Regions from separate parts of the Homo sapiens genome. Here region 2 is linked to region 1. The links come from fine-mapping of genetic effects on gene expression. A gene starts in region 1. The other region holds a variant in brackets. All regions are shown on one strand. Distances are from middle to middle. Region 1 holds the start of CEACAM21 (CEA cell adhesion molecule 21). Region 2 holds the start of B3GNT8 (UDP-GlcNAc:betaGal beta-1,3-N-acetylglucosaminyltransferase 8).

Region 1 (8,323 bases):
GCACTGATTGAGCCCTGGCTCTGTGCATGACCTTGTTAAGGGCTTTAATCGCATTAATCTCTGAATAAATATCCTCACAACCACCCTGAGGTCCAGGTGTTTGTAACAATTCTACAGATGAGGAAACTGAGGCCCAGGAGGTTGAGTGTCTTGCCCAAGGTCAAATACCTGGTACCTATTGTAACCAGGATGATAACTGGATGAGTCTAATCCCTGAGTTCTTACCCACATTGCTCCCCAGGCTCTGAAGGAATCTCATCCTTCTCATTCCGTGTATCATTTTACACCCCCCCTCCCTCCTAGGAAAATATACAAGGAAAGGAGTGAGAGGGGCCGAGGGTCACTCACATTTTACAGTCAGCTTGAGGGGGTCGCTCCTGTTGGAGCTGACTGGGTTGGAGACCTCACACTGATACTCCCCAGCGTCCTCCTGCCTGATGGGGTCTATGGTGAGCACATGGTTAAACCAGGACAGCTTCATCCTCTTCGTGACCTGCAGACGCTGGTTGTTGAAAATCCACTGGAAAGAGGTTCCAGTGTTATTTGTGTGGCAGGTCAGGACCACGGAGCCCTTCTCTGTGACTGTGGTGCTGCTGGCTTGGATGGAGGGCTGAGCCACTGACTCTGTGGATAGAGTGACCAACAGAAAGTGTCTTGGGGCCATGCTGCATCCTCAGAGATCTCAGAGTCAAATTTAGAACATTCTCCTGTGAATAAAGGAGAAAGATGAAGGACAGGGAGGAGCAGAGAGAACCAGAGACACCCATAGCAGCGAGCAGTAGGGACTACAGTGACCTCAGAGACCCCAGGGACCAGGAGGACCCAGCTGCCTCAGACCAGGACCAGGGAGCCCTGAAAACCCTCCCACAGATGAGCGGCCCCAGAGTCACATGAGATGCAATACCTGGGGTGGCTTTAGGAGCAGGCAGTCAGAGAAATGGAACATGGGTCTCAGCCCCTAAGGGACAAGGAAGAGGTGTGGCCAGCTCCTCCTAGGATCCTACATCCAGGACCCAGTCTGTAAAGAGGTTATGATTATTCCTTTCTTTTTTCATTAATTCCCTCCCTCCTTCATCAGAGAACTACTGAGTGTGTGTCTCAGTTGGGCCTTGTGCAGGTACAGGGTGTAGTGGGAAGAGAAAGCTGAGTCCTTTCCTTCATCCTCCCATGGGAGTGACATCAACAAATCAAGAAATTCATGATTTCACGTCCAGTGAGGGAAGGAATGTGGATCTGATGGGAGAGGCTTGGACAATCCTGGCATTGAGTCTGATAGTTGAGACAGGTGATTTCGTTCTAAGTAAAAACTGACTAATTCTCCATTTGCCCGTCATTCCTCAGACCAGAATCTCCCTCTCTGAGCTGAGGATGCCCAAGAAGAAAGGAGCTGAACCAACATCTGGTCCTGGGGTCCACAGATGCCCCACGGTGGTGGCCACGACCAGATTCTGGGCTGCAGACACACGGTGGTGTGACGTTGAGCACTGACAGCCTGTGTGATGCTGATGCAATTTCTCTTTAATAAAATGGGGTACATGTCAATGGTCCCTGGCTTGCCATCCTCTCTGTAAATTAACATTAAAATATTTACAATTACCTGACCTAAAGCTTGGCACAGAATAGCTCCAAATAAACATCATCTATTATTATTTTACTCCAAAAAAAAAAAAAAAGAGTTCTCTGGGCCTGATTCCTGGTGGAGAAGGAGCGGTCCAGAGTGTCTTTTCTCTGCTTTCCCTCCTCCTGAGGACAGTGCACTTCCCGGGACATCTTTTAAGTTTCCCATCCAGTTTAATGGCCTGGGAAGTTTGTTTGTCTGTCCTCTCCACTCTGACTCTCAGGTGAAAGATGAGGCTCTGCCCTTGCCCAGATGGGGCTCTGGGGGCTGAGCCCTGCCTGGTGACCAGCTCTAGGAACCACGGCCCTGGGACAGCTGGTAAATCCTTGCTCACAATCAGCCCTGCCCAGGAAGCCACAACCCAGCCCTGGCACAGGCTCCCCAGGGTCATCTGGAGTCAGGATCTTGGGACAGGGGCCTGGGGCAGGGGCTTCAAGGGCTGAGCTTCTCTCAGAGGATCCTCAGGCCAGGCCCTGACTGAGTCCTATAAGATCTTTCTCAGGTCATGTCTATGAGGAGGAGGCCAAGGGGGGTTGGACTGAGACTGATTTTCCCCCGCTGCATCTCCCGCATCAGACTATCCTTCTTGCTGTAGGGAATTTCCACGGAGTCCGGATAAGGGAAAGGAATTCTGATCTGTTATAGTTTGTCTCCCCTGGGTGTGTCCTGCACTAAATGCCCAAACCCCAACATGGGACGTAATGCAGAGGGGGATGCAGGCACAGCCCAGGCCTGACAATCCTGCGTATGTGAAGCAGAACTGACCCCCAACACCCAGAGGCACGGAGGAATCACTCACCGTATACACGGAGATGGTGAGATGCCTGTTCAATCTGAGAATTTCTGTATGTGACTTGTAGGTTGTAGTATCCCGTGTCCTCTAGGGTGACGTTCTGGAAATGCAGATCTCCACTGGGTGATATTGTCTCTCGACCGCTGTATGCAGGCCCTGGAGTCCTAACGTGAGTGTCTATTACATATGCTGCGATTAGCTGGTTGGGCTCCACCGTTTTCCCTTTGTACCAGCCATAGCTGTAAAGATTCTCGGGCAGATAAACCACAGAGAGATGAACATTCTCCCCTTCAGCAACTTCAAAGGGCGCTGATGCAATAAAGAGCCAGGCAGTGGTGGGTGCGTTCCAGAAAGTTAAAAGTGAGGCTAGGAAAGGGAGAGAATATCAGTCAATATTTGACCTATGCATTGGCATGGAAAGACGGGGTCCTGGGTGCAGGTCTCTTCACCCCTCAGCCTTAGAGGGTGTGTGTGTGTGTGTGTGTCCTACTGGGTCAAAGTCAGCAGCATGACCCTCATTCCTTCAGTACCTCTGACCTTGGCATTTCCTTGTGTGAACCCTCTTTCCCAGGGGTCTGCATGGTTCCCTCCCCACTGCCTTCAGTTCCTACTCACACAAGGGAATCCCTGGGAGACTTCTTTCGTGAAGCCTCCTCTAGAGACCCTGGGTCTTCCCTTTCTGACCTTTCCCAGCTCTGTTCCCTCCAGGGCTCTTGTCAGCACCTGACCTCACATTCTAGATCTCTTTGGGTGTCTGTCTTCCCCCCCATGAGATTGTGAGCTCTGTGAGGGCATGGACTTGAGTGATGTTAGTTGCACCCCAGTGCCTGGGACAGGCTGCAGACTCCTGTGGATGAGTTCATGAGCGTTCCCAGGGCCTTCCATATCCTGGGGTTTATTTGCTAATGTCTGAGGTTGGCAGATGAAGACAGAGTTTCATGCCCTGGTGGTGTTTTTATTTAAATTGTCACTGTGATATAGTTTTACTATCATTTTCAAAGTGTAGTGGCCACTGACAATGAACTTGAAAACATGGACCAACTGAGATTGTTTTGCCCCTTGGCAATTCCAGTTCACTTAGATTTTTTGGTTCTCCTTAGACGCTCTCTCCCCTGAGTCTCTAACAAAAGCCCTCTGTCTCCTCTCAGAGCCCCATCCTCCCCAGGAGACCCCAGCCAGTCTCTGTGCTCCCTCCTCCCACCCACTCCCAGGGAGTCCTCCCCTCACCTGTGAGCAAGAGCCCCTGCCAGGGGATGCATTCTCTGTGGGGACAAGCTGAGGGGGGCCCCATGGTCTCTGCTGCCTGCTCTGTCCTCCTCTGTGGAGAGGAGCTTGGGCTCCAGGAACGCTCTAGACAGGGTTACTGTGACTGTTGTCTCTGCTGTCCTTCCTTCCTCTATGCTGAGCTTCCTCTCAGGCAGGAGCACTTCCCGTTTATGGGCAAGGGCGGGGCTCTGCCTACAATGTCTCTCTGTCCCCTCCCCTCTCAGTCCTGCCTCCCTTGTCCCTCCTTTCTCCTTCCTTTTTGCCTATATTTGGTTCCCTAGGCAAAACTTTGAGAAGCAACGCTGATGGGGTCCTCATAACAGGACGACCCACTCTCCCCAGTACTGACCTCTGCTGTGTTCTGGCCTTGGTTCTGTCACAGCCGGTAGATTATTTCCCTTTGTGACACACAAAACCAGCTGGGCCCTGGGTCTCCTCATGCTCTCCAGTGCTCCAGGAAGGCAGAATGATGCCCAGCAGGAAAGTGACAGAGGTGGCTCTGGGGGCTAGAAAGGGGCTCACTGGGTGATGGCTGGGAAGGACCCACCCGCTATCTTCAGTGTCACCAGCCTGGCCTCTGACCCAGGGACAGAGACCCAGGCCTGGAGGTCTCGGGAGGATCCCCAGCTCCTAGGTGTGGAGGGAGGTGTCCTGTGTGTCCTGGGAAGAGAGGACTTTGATGGAAGGAGGTGGGAGGCTCTGGGTTCTGCTGTCCTTGGTGAAGGTTTCAGGGGGACCCTCTCCGTGTCTGGGGTCTGTGCCCCCAGCTTAACTCTCATTCTCTTTGCAAATACATATATTTTGTGGATCTGCAGTTGCCTGAACTGTCTCATGTCCCTAAATCTTTGTATCCCTTTTTACAGAAGGTCAGGAAGGGTGTGTACATGAGTATGAGGACTATCTGATCAGGGCGAGTGTTTGTTTCCCAAAGATCTCTTTAGATATGGTATAATACATAAGATAAATGTACTGAATTAGCAATTTTAAGTGTAGAATTAAATGATACTAATTCTATTCACAATGTTGTACAACCATCACCATAATTTTTTACCAGAAAATCTTCATTATACCAAATGGAAACTTCATACTTTTAATCAATAACTCCCCACTTCCCCCTGCCCCACCCACTGGTAGCCTCTGATACTATCAATCTCTGTGAATTTGCCTAGTTTACATGTCTCATATAATAAGGAATTATATACGTGTATTATTTTTTTCTGGATTATTTCTCTTAGGGTAACACTTTTAAGATTCATCCACGTCGTAGCATATATTACAGCTTCTTTCCTATTTATGGCTGAGTAATATCCCAATATATGTTTATACCTCAATTTTAATTCATTCATCTCTTAATGGACATGTGGGTGGTTTCCACATTTTTGCTATTGTGAAAACCGCTGCAATGAACTTACACTTGGAAGTATCTGTTTGGGTTTCTGTGTTCATTTCTTTGGGGGTACATATAGGAGTATAAATATGGGGTCATGTGGTAGTTCTATGTTTAAGTTTTTGAGAAACAGCCAAACTGTTTTCCAGTTTGCTGTGCTATTTTATATTCCCATCAGCAATATACGAGGGTTCCATTTTCTCTACATTCTTGTAAACACTTACTATTTAATATTTTTTAAAACTTATAGCCATTCTAGTAGGTGTGAAGTGATAGCTCATTGCAGTTTTGATTTTCATTTCCCTGGTGGCTGATGAAGTTGAGCATTTTTTCATGTATTTGCTGACAATTTTAATATTTTTTAGAGAACTATTTATTCAAATCATTTGCTGTTTAAAAAAAATGGGTTATCTTTTTATTATTCAGTTGTAATAGTTCTTTATATATTTTAGATACAAGTCCCTTATGGGGTACATGATTTGCAAAATTTTTCTCATATTCTGTGTCTTCTCACTTTCTTCATGGTGTTCTTTGAAGCACAAACATTTTTAACTTTGATGAAGTTCACTTATCTATTTTTAATTTTGTTACTTATGCTCTTGATGTCATATTGAAGAAACCATTGCCCAATCCAAGATCATTAAGTTTTACTCCTATATGTTCTTCTAATGGTTTGATAAGTTTTGCTATTCCATTTAGGTTTTTGAAACATTTTGAGTTAACTTTTGTATGGGCTGTGAGGTAGGGGTCTAACTACACTATCTCGCATGTGGTTATCCAGTTGTTCCAGCACAATATGAAGAGGCTACCATTCTTTCCCCATTGAGGAATCTTGGCACCCATGTCAAAAACCAATGGGCTGTAATGGTGAGGGTTTATTTCTGGACTCTTGATTCTATTCCATTGATCTCTATGTGCATTCTTGTGCCAGAAGCACACTGTTTTAATGATTGTAGTGTTTTAGTAAGTTTTCAAATTAGGAAGTGAGTCCTCCAATTTTTTTTTCCAGATTGTTTTGGCCATTCTGGGGTGACTTTTAAAAAAGATGTAGTTCAATGGTTCTCAAAGCAGGAGTGGTTCAGCTCTCCTTTTTTGGCAGTCTGGAGACCTTTTTAGGACCTTAATCTAAGTAGATAAATTATTCCCACTTTCTTTTCTGAGTTGCTATGTTACAGTGTATATTGACACCCATGAAATAATTGAGAGACCCTGGAAGTGCTTGCCTACATAGTGAGGGACAATTAGTTCCATGATCATGGGCACAGAAGATTTTGTTTTGGGAAACAATTTTGTTGGTGGAGTTATATTCATGCTTACTCTTTTATTTGTCTTCATAGCCTGCATCTCCTTCAGACTTCATATCTGTTTATTTTCTTGTTTGTCCTCTGGGGTTTGGGTGTTGGGTGACCAGTCAGCTGGAGCTGGAGGAGGTGCTTAGCAAGGCAGTGACCCTGGTTGGGAGGAGCAGGGCTCAGCAGGGTGAAAGTAGCTGGGCCTTGAGTCAGGAGTGGCATCTGGAAGGCCTGACTGTAAGGGTCAGAAGGGCCAGCAGGTGGGTGTCCTAGGCACAAACGGTGGCTGCTGCTGTGGACTGGAGGAAGGTAAGAGGCCCCGAGTATTCCATGTTCTTACTGGCTCCCCAACTGAGGATTCCTCTCCTGGGCTGGTGCTGTCCTGCAGCAGGGAGGGGTTAGACAGGGACGGCTGCACATCAGGCCGGAGTCCATGTCATCCTCTTAGGCACTGTCACTACAGATTGAGGATTCTGTTCATAAGCCAAGCCTTTGCACAAGGAAGGGACCCGGGCTCTCAAGGAAGAGCAGCTCCTGGTCAGACCTCCATCTCCTTCTCTCTCATTGCCTGAGGCCTCAAGCTTGGTCTACCTGGCACAGGGGTCTGGATCCTCCTCCCAGGGTTGGGGTCTTACTGAGCTGGGCACCTGCAGGTGGGAGAAGATCTGGAGGGGCCCCATCTGCCTTCACCAGATTGATGTTGAGGGTCCCTGAGTCCTGCACCACTATCAGGTGCTGAGCAACTTCCAGTGTCAGTGACAACCACCCCATGGTGGAAGCAGAACCACCTCGTGAGAAAGCACCTCCAAGCCTCAGTGCTTGCCATGTGTGGGAATTTGCTGGTTTCAGTTGGGGGCATGTTGGTGGGTGGTCATGAATTCAGGGCCGGATTCTATGCTCACAGTGCACATGCTGGATGTGGTACAGACCCCAGGCAGGGCTCAGTGGGGTGGTTTTGGGTGTGCACAGGTATCTTTTCTGGAGGAGCTGGTGGTGATTTGGCTCCCAGAAGTTCCTGAGCTCTGCAGACTCACCAAGCACTCAATATTTGAGTGAACATTGGGCGAGAGAGCAGAAGGTAAGTGTCAGGGCATCGGGGTTGGTGCCTCTGGGAAGAGGAGGAACATTCTGGGAACAAAGCTCTCCCCCGGCTTACAGGGAGCTTCCCATCGCTCCTGCCTTGAGGATCAGGGAAACTAGGGCCTCTGCTCTTCCAGGGGCTGCTTGCAGGCAGTTTGCTCTGGGAGGGGGTGACCCAGGAGTTGCCTCTCATTTTGCATTTGAGATTTAAAAGGAGAAGGGACAGTATATCTTGCCAGGTCACAAAAATTACAGGCATCATATTGACTGAAGGGCACTCCTGTCATCATTGCAATATACCAGAATGGTCTTTTAAAAAAATAAGTGATTTAGGTTTACCAGCAACTGTAATGCTTGTTTTATTCTTCTAGTTCACCGTTAATGTCACTTTTGTAGTTTTAGCACTGGCAATGTTGATTTTATGTTGACTCTGATGATTTTAAGCTTTCATTTGTTCACATAGAGATCATCTTCTTTCTGAATATTAATGCATTTTTTCTCTATTTCTACTGGTTATTCCTGTACATAGAGTAGAGAATCACTTTTCCCAAGGAGGTGGAAAGCTTCTGACTACCAAAAAAAAAAAAAAGTGTCAAAATGCTTTAAAGTCAGTAACTTAAAGATCAAATCCAAGAGTGGGCAACAGATTCTGCCCAGGGTCTGAAAGGTGGAGAGGTGACTGGTGAGGATGTTTAAAAGACCTCTCCTCTCTACTCCCTAAATGGGGGCCATCCAGTGTTCTTGAGGTTCAGAGAAGGCCCAGGGCTGGGGCAGCAGGGCACTGTCAGCTCCCAGCTCCCAGGGGCCAGGAGTAAGACCCCAACACTGTCCAGACACTGATTGCATTCATTTTGGGGGAGAGTAGATTCTTATTTAAAGAATAATAC
Region 2 (8,323 bases), 150 kb after region 1:
CTTGCAGGGACCCTGACTGACACAGGGGCTACTACTGACACTTTACAGGGATGGTTCTCCCCCGTGCAGGGCCGCTGTGCCCACTGCAGGACATGCAGCATCCTTCGCCCCACTCCACTCACTAAAGGCCAGCGCACCCCAGGCCCCATAGTATTGCTGGTTATGGATTTATTGACTTTATGTTCCAAATTCAGCTTTTTCAGTTGGCTGTTTTTTGAAAGGGGATAAGCTTTGTCAGTAGAGGGCACCAAACAGGCATTATAGGAGGAAAGGCGCCTCCTTCGTGGTTCTTGTTGGTTGTGCTTCTGCCTCTGGACGCCGCAGTGCATGTGGCTTCCCCAGCACCCAGCTCCTGAAGCACCAGGCGGTCAGCAGCTGCCCTTGGCACCCTCCAGCCCTCAGAAGTTGCGTAGGAGACACAGCGCCTCCACTGAGGCACCTCTCTGGGAATAACGTTCCCCAGCACCCCAAATGGATTTCCAGTCAATTCAGAAGCATTTTACCAGTGAAGCCCTCATTATTCCAGTTCACTGTTAAAGCCAGTAATTCTCTATATTAAACTTTCCCTGTTCAAGTTACTCTGTGGTTTTTCTCTCCTGACTGCATCCTGATGGATATAGAGTTGATACCTGGAGTGTCCCAGGAGATGACTCTTAAGATAGGATTCCAGGATTGGTTTGGTTGTGCCTTTGGGCTTGGGCGCCGCGCTGAGCTCTTGCTGATGGGAAACAGGATGCCAGAGGCCCATGGCATGCAATGGCATCATAATCCCACAAGTGCCTGTGGTTGACGGAGATGAGGGACCAACTGAAGCACGTGCCTTGGGACCCCCTGTGGCTGCTGTGCTCAACAGCTGTGCTAGTTGTGCCAATTCTGAAGACCAGGGTATTGGATGGATTCTCCAGAGTGCCCTTGAGTGCCCACAGACAGTGACAAGCTTGGGTCCGCTAACTCAGCTCAAGTCACAGTCTGAGAACTAGACAGCTTTCATGACAGCCCCCAGATTTTTTGTTTGTTTGTTTTTGAGACAGTCTTGCTATGTCACCCAGGCTGGAGTGCAGTAGTGTGATCTCTCGGCTCACTGCAACCTCCACCTCCCGGGTTCAAGCGATTTTCCTGCCTTAGCTTACCGAGTAGCTGGGATTACAGGCGTGTACCACCACGCCAGGCGAATTTTTGTGTTTTTAGTAGAGACAGGGTTTTGCCATGTTGGCCATGCTGGTCTCAAACTCCTGGCCTCAGGTGATCCACCCACCTCAGCCTCCCAAAGTGCTGGGATTACAGGTGTGAGCCACCATGCCCGGCCCAAAAGTTTTTACTTCTTTGGAATGGGGTCATCTAATTGGACCCAGAGTAAACAGGCGATCTTGAACCCCCAAGTCACTCCAAGCGAGTGACTTATCAGCATCTGAGGAACCTACCAGCCTTCCTGTGCTTAGAAACCTTGTGATGTGGCCAGGCACGGTGGCTCACGCCTGTAATCCCAGCACTTTGGGAGGCCAAGGCAGGCGGATCATGAGGTCAGGAGTTCAAAACCAGCCTGGCCAACATAGTAAAACCCCATCTCTACTAAAAATGCAAAAAATTAGCCAGGCGTGGTGGCGAGCACCTGTAATCCTAGTTACTCGGAAGGCTGAACCCTCCCGAGTAGGAGGATCTCTTGAACCCAGGAGGCGGAGAGGTTGCAGTGAGCCGAGATTGCACCACTGCACACCAGCCTTGGCGACAGTGCAAGACTCCATCTCAAAAAAAAAAACAGAGGCCGGGTGCAGTGCCTCATGCCTGTAATCCCAGCACTTTGGGAGGCCGAGGCGGGTGGATCACAAGGTCAGGAGATGAAGACCATCCTGCCTAAGTACTCTACTTTAGTAGAAATAGTGAAACCCTGTCTCTACTAAAAATACAAAAACATTAGCCGGGCATGGTGGCGGGCGTCTGTAGTCCCAGCTACTTGAGAGGCTGAGGCAGGAGAATGGCGTGAACCTGGGAGGTGAGGCTTGCAGTGAGCGGAGATCATGCCACTGCACTCCAACCTGGGTGACAGAGTGAGACTCCGTCTCAAAAAAAAAACCTTGTGATGACCTCACCAGGGGCAGACACCTTGAAAGTGGTCGTCCTTTTTTTTTTTTTTTTTTTTTTGATTAGCGGTAAGATCTCACTATGTTGCCCAGGCTGGTCTTGAACTCCTGGAAAGTGATCCTTCCCTCTTGGCCTCCCAGAGTATTGGGATTACAGGGGTGAGCCACTGTCCCACCACAGTTTTTTTTTTCTTATGGCCAGCTCTTATACAGAAATAACAGATACACCCCATTCTTCTTAAGACTCACCACAGCGCCCCTTGCTGCCTCTAGACCCATAAATACCTAGGGTGAAATCAGCTTGCTCCAGGTGAACAGGTGCCAGCTAGGACCTAGGCGGGAGCAGCTTTTACACTATAAGAATGACAAGGCTTCGCAAATATACAGAGTCAGAAACTTGGGGAATGTGTGCAGAAGGGGATTTTAAGGATGTTACACCAATGAGGGTGGATGTAACACTAGCTCAGGCCAAATTTACTGGCATGAGTGCGCTTTCTAGAGCTTCTGGATTTCATGGGTTACCTTGTGCAGCTGGACGTAGTTCTAATAGCTTGCTTGGGTGCCTAACCGGAACTTGGATCCAACAGTGGCCTAAAGTTAATGAGGCAGAGAGACCAGAACTGCCCTAGCATAAGATGGGTGAGGGGAGTCCCAAGGCTTGGGGAGACAGAAGTGTTGGATTGGAATGATCGTGTTCCACCAGCATGTCCACCCTCCAACCATGTTCCCCAAGAAGGCACCCCTTAGTGGCCAATCCCATGAGAGTTAATCATTCTGTATATTGAACTTTCCCTATTCCCATTCCTGTGTGGTTTCTCTCTCCTGATTGGACCCGGACTGAGGCACATGGCAAAGGCAAAAAGAAAGGCACCTTGTGAAGCTTCCTAATGCTTCCAGGAGGAGCAGCACCCCCTGCCCCCAGAAGCTAGATGAGCTCAGGGGGCCTGGAGTCCCTCTCCCCCAGCCCCAGAGTGGAGTGGGCTTGCAGACTCCCTCAGGAGGTGCTCGGGCCCCTGCCCCCAGCCCCTAGCTGTCATTTCCCACTCCAACTATTATTCCATTAATATTCACCACTTCCTCCCCACTCTCTTCCTCCAGCTGTTCCCACAGGCTCCATTATTCAAACTTTGGGGGAGGAAATCAGGGCTGGACAGATCATCAACTGCTGCTGCTGACAGACTGTGTTCCTGCCATGATGGGGACAGGCCTGCCCCAAACCAGGGTGGAGTGAAGGGGTCAGCCCAGGCTTAGTGGGAGCCCCTTAGTCTTACCCCATGTCTTGGGAGGTCTTCAGAGAGCTGATGCAGTCCCAACAGCAGGGGCCCCTGGAGGGCAGGGATGCAAACACAGGCAGACACCCCCTCCTGCCCCAAGGGGCTGGATGTGAGTGTTCCTGGAGTCACAGTGCCGCTGGGGGAGGGGAGGGGCCCGGGGTGAGGCTGGCTCCAGGCCGGAGGTTGGGGGTAAGGTAGGAACAGATTCCCACGCTGCTGGGCAGGCAGCCCGGGTGCCGAGAGGGATGGAGGAGGTACAGGGGATCAGCTTAGCTCCCGGGGTTCCCCGTGGGCCCCACCCCGTCACCCTCTATTGCCCTTGAAGCTCCAGTCTTTTCCTCTCCTGTTCTTCCCCTTGGCTCCCTCTCCGCCTCTGCCTGGGTCTGGCTCGGAAGCCTGAGTCCCTCCCCTCTGCCCTCCACCTGCCTCTCTCAACCTCTCTTTCCCCATGAGCACCCCACAGGGCTTCCGCAACCCCTTATCTTTCTCGCCATCTCCATTTCCCTCCCCCTCTCCCTCCTGGCCACCTTCCCACTTGCCCGTCTTCTCTCTCTCTCCCCCTCAGCTCTCTCCATCGCCTGTCTCACCCCAGTTCTCCTCTCTCTGCTCCCTGGCCGTCTCTTCCCTCTCCACAATGTCTCTGTCTCTCCTTCTCCTCACCAGCCCCGTTCCCCCCACCTCACCCTGACTGGGCAGCAACAACAAACATCCCTCTGGCAGGCCCGCCGATCCCTTCCCACTCAGCACATTCACTGCCGCCTCCTGGCCATGGGTGCAGCCG[G/A]GCGCCAGCCTCTCAGCCTCCCCATCTCTGCCTCAGTGGGACCCTGCCTCGCCCTGGTCACTCTAACACTCCCCAGCCCAGGCCCAGCCTTCAGCCCCACCCTCCCTGGCACCCCCTGGCCCTGGTTCTCCCCTCCCAGGCCTCACAAAGCCCCCGTCTTGTTTCTGTGGCTGCCCCCTGCACCCTTCCCAGCTGTCTCACCAGAAACCAGCCCTAACACGCCAGAGCCCCATCTCTCAGGTCGGCCTCCTGCCCTCCTCCCTCCCTCCCTCCCTCCCTCTCTCCTGCCTCAGCCCCGCCCCGGCCCCTGGGGCCCTCCCTGCTCCCGCTCCACTCCCCTCCCCGCCCCTCTGGACTGGCTGGGCAGGGCTGGGCCCCGCCGGTCGACAACACAGGGGCTGGGGCAGGCAGATCAGAGGGAGCTGAGGGAGGCCTGACCTGAGGCCGGCACCCGGAGCTGGCGGGAGCCAGACCCAGAGGTAAAAAAGCATGGGATCCCTGGTTCCCCAGTCCCTGGGGTTGGGGTGTTGCGGGAGGCAGGCTGGGTTTCTAACCCCAGGGAGCTAGGAATCCCGCTCCTGATTTCCTGGTGAGGGCAATAAATGGAGGGAGAGGGAGGAGATAGACGGCAAGGTCCCTTGTCCTGGATGGAGACAGGGAAGAGGTAGACCCTTGGGCTTTTAGGAAGGTGGAAGCATTTGGACGGAGTGGGAAGAACAGGGTGCTGGTACGGGATTGGAATGGGGGACTCCTAGGTCTAGGAATAAGGACCAACGAGGTCCCTGGGTCAGGGGAGCTGTTTAGGATCTGGGACCGAGAGAATCTGTTATGGGGGTTGGCGGGGACTATGGGAGATTGTGAAGCTGTCTGCCTGGGGCCTGGCTGGGCCCTCTCTGGAGGCCCATCCCCACACCCCAATGGCCTCCGTGGCTCCCCTGTGGCTCCCTTGTAGCTCCCGCGGCCGCCCCTTCCCTGGGCCGGGTCATGCGCTGCCCCAAGTGCCTTCTCTGCCTGTCAGCACTGCTCACACTCCTGGGCCTCAAAGTGTACATCGAGTGGACATCCGAGTCCCGGCTCAGCAAGGCCTACCCCAGCCCTCGGGGCACCCCGCCAAGCCCCACGCCAGCCAACCCTGAGCCCACCCTACCTGCCAACCTCTCCACCCGCCTGGGCCAGACTATCCCGCTGCCCTTTGCTTACTGGAACCAGCAGCAGTGGCGGCTGGGGTCCCTGCCCAGTGGGGACAGCACTGAAACGGGGGGCTGCCAGGCTTGGGGGGCCGCCGCCGCCACCGAGATCCCTGACTTCGCCTCCTACCCCAAGGACCTCCGCCGCTTCTTGCTGTCAGCAGCCTGCCGGAGCTTCCCACAGTGGCTGCCTGGAGGTGGTGGCAGCCAAGTCTCCAGCTGCTCAGATACTGATGTCCCCTACCTGCTGTTGGCCGTCAAGTCAGAACCAGGGCGCTTTGCAGAACGACAGGCCGTGAGAGAGACGTGGGGCAGTCCAGCTCCAGGGATCCGGCTGCTCTTCCTGCTAGGGTCTCCGGTGGGTGAGGCGGGGCCTGACCTAGACTCACTAGTGGCCTGGGAGAGCCGTCGCTACAGTGACCTGCTGCTCTGGGACTTCCTCGACGTCCCATTCAACCAGACGCTCAAAGACCTGCTGCTGCTGGCCTGGCTGGGCCGCCACTGCCCCACCGTGAGTTTTGTCTTGCGAGCTCAGGACGATGCCTTTGTACACACCCCTGCCCTGCTGGCTCACCTGCGGGCCCTGCCACCTGCCTCGGCCCGAAGCCTCTACCTGGGTGAGGTCTTTACCCAGGCCATGCCTCTCCGGAAGCCAGGAGGACCCTTCTATGTGCCCGAGTCCTTCTTCGAAGGTGGCTACCCAGCCTATGCAAGCGGGGGTGGCTACGTCATTGCCGGGCGCCTGGCACCCTGGCTGCTGCGGGCGGCAGCCCGTGTGGCACCCTTCCCCTTTGAGGACGTCTACACTGGCCTTTGCATCCGAGCCCTGGGCCTGGTGCCCCAGGCCCACCCAGGCTTCCTCACAGCCTGGCCAGCAGACCGCACTGCGGACCACTGTGCTTTCCGCAACCTGCTGCTGGTACGGCCCCTGGGCCCCCAGGCCAGCATTCGGCTCTGGAAACAACTGCAAGACCCAAGGCTCCAGTGCTGACTCTCATTGGGGAGGGCGGAGGTGCTGACCTGGCCTGGGCCTCTGGGGCCGGCCCCTGGCTCAGCCCCTCCTTCCAGGTCTTGATGGGAGGGAGGAGGGCCCAGAAGCTGGACAACTTAAGCCACTCCTTGGCCTCCCCCAGCCAGGGGCCTGGGCAGGAAAGATGGGGTGGTGGACTGTTTTTGCCTACTTTTTGTTTTTGAAAAACATGCACTCCCCACTCTGAGGCCTGGGGTTGTTTTTGCATCTGTGGGGCCCTGGAGTGGTGGGGAGCAGGGCTTGGCCACACCCTGACCTTCATCCTGGACGCTCCCCTGCACCCCTGCTGGGCAGGGCTAGCTCCACTGGGCTCCCCATCACTCTGCTGGACAGCAGGCTTCTCCCATTCTGTGAGAGAGCAGGAGACCATCTCTGGAGGACCCCCCCACCCCCATCCTGTCTGCTGAAGTTAACCTTCCAGCTTGCGCAAGCTTCCGGGGGAAGTAGGTATCTCAAGAGCCTTGACCTTATTTATCTAAGGTGGAGAAGCTGGGGGTGGCCTCAAATCACCCCCAAACTCCAGGAAACAAAGACCAGAGGTGGTAGAGAGCCAGGCGCAGAGATGCAGTTTATTCGTGACCTCTGCTGGCCACTCGCACCTGCGCAAGTTCCACAGGCTGACCTGCCATGTCCACCCCATGCCCAGAGGGGCTTCTAGTCCTGAATGTGCCCTCACCCAGCCCCTGGGAGAAGGCACTGTAACAACAGGTGAAGAGGGGGCTGACGGAGCCTCAGCAACTGCTGCAGATGCTGTCCCCTGACAATGTAACAGCCGGGAGGAGCAGGGGTGAAGAGTGGCAGCCGCCCTGGCCGCTGAGTATTTTAGAGGGAGCTGACTGGGGAAGACAGTGGTGTGCTGTCAGGTCCCCCTGCTCCCCTTAGAGTGGGGCTACCTCTCGGGGTAGCTGAGGATGGGTGGGGGTGGGCTGAGCAGGTCTCACTTATCGAAGTGATCCAGTGGGTAGTGCTCCCCGTAGGTCTGCAGGTGGCGGGCCAGAGACTCCTGCTGCTTGCGGAGCTGGGCGGGCATCTCCTGATACACGTCTGAGAAGAGTAGGTTGGGGTTGGGTTTGGGCTTCCGCTCGGCCTGCTCAAAGGCCTCCATCACCTGTGGGGACATGGGGCAGTGGGCAGGCTAGCCGGCCTCCCATGCAGGACCCTGCTTCCTCCTGCGGGGCCTTGGCAAGGAATTAACCACTCCAAGCCTTTGTGTTCCCACCTCGACAATGGAAATGATTATCCTAGCAGAAGTGTAATGAAAACCCTCAAATCCCAGCAGGGATCAGGTGCTATCCAAGTGTGTGGAATCATTTAAGGCTTTCAGCAGCCCTAAGAGGTAGACAGCTAAGCAATGAGGAAACTGAGGCACAGAGAAGGGCAGGGACAGGACACACGGTGCTGCCCTATGCCGGGTGCTGCCCTCACCACTGGGCTGCACGGGCCCTGGGTCCTAATGACCGGGCCAGGGAGGGTGGCACACTGACTCTGGGCAGGGCATGTACACTCCACCACGGTTTGCCACCTAATCCTCAAACCAGCTTTTTTTTTTTTTTAAGAGATAGTCTTGCTCTGTTGCCCAGGCTGGAGTGCAGTGGCGCCATCTCCAATCACTGCAAGTTCCACCTCCCGGGTTCAAGCGATTCTTCTGCCTCACCTTCCTGAGTAGCTGGGACTACAGGCACGCACCACCACGCCTGGCTAATTTTTTTTTTTGAGATGGAGTCTTGCTCTCGTTGCCCAGGCTGGAGTGCAATGGTACGATCTCAGCTCACTGCAACCTCTACCTCCCAGGTTCAAGCAATTCTCCTGCCTCGGCCTCCCAAGTAGCTGGGATTACAGGCACCCGGCACCATGCCCGGCTAATTTTTGTATTTTTATTAGAGACGAGGTTTCACCATGTTGGCCAGGCTGGTCTCAAACTCCCGACCTCAGGTGATCTGTCCGCCTTGGCCTCCCAAAGTGCTGGGATTACA

Evidence for each region. PIP is the estimated chance that this variant, and not a neighbour inherited with it, causes the effect.
Region 2: its variant is fine-mapped to the expression of CEACAM21 in whole blood (INTERVAL, PIP above 0.99).

Annotation. Positions count from the first base shown.
Region 1 is chr19:41,571,654-41,579,976 of GRCh38, reverse strand. It overlaps CEACAM21 (CEA cell adhesion molecule 21), which reads right to left and starts at 3,811. Exons shown (of 7, transcript NM_001098506.4): 1 at 3,639-3,811; 2 at 2,418-2,777; 3 at 349-624. The coding sequence starts at 3,702.
Region 2 is chr19:41,423,573-41,431,895 of GRCh38, reverse strand. BCKDHA (branched chain keto acid dehydrogenase E1 subunit alpha) reads right to left here. Exons shown (of 9, transcript NM_000709.4): 9 at 6,894-7,458. The coding sequence ends at 7,288. B3GNT8 (UDP-GlcNAc:betaGal beta-1,3-N-acetylglucosaminyltransferase 8) reads left to right here and starts at 4,522. Exons shown (of 2, transcript NM_001385648.2): 1 at 4,522-4,612; 2 at 5,086-6,537. The coding sequence starts at 5,118. The coding sequence ends at 6,311. DMAC2 (distal membrane arm assembly component 2) reads left to right here. Exons shown (of 6, transcript NM_018035.3): 6 at 1-578. RefSeq lists an enhancer at 1-815 and silencers at 4,202-4,351, 4,372-4,481. The variant G/A (reference allele first, on the strand shown) is at 4,134.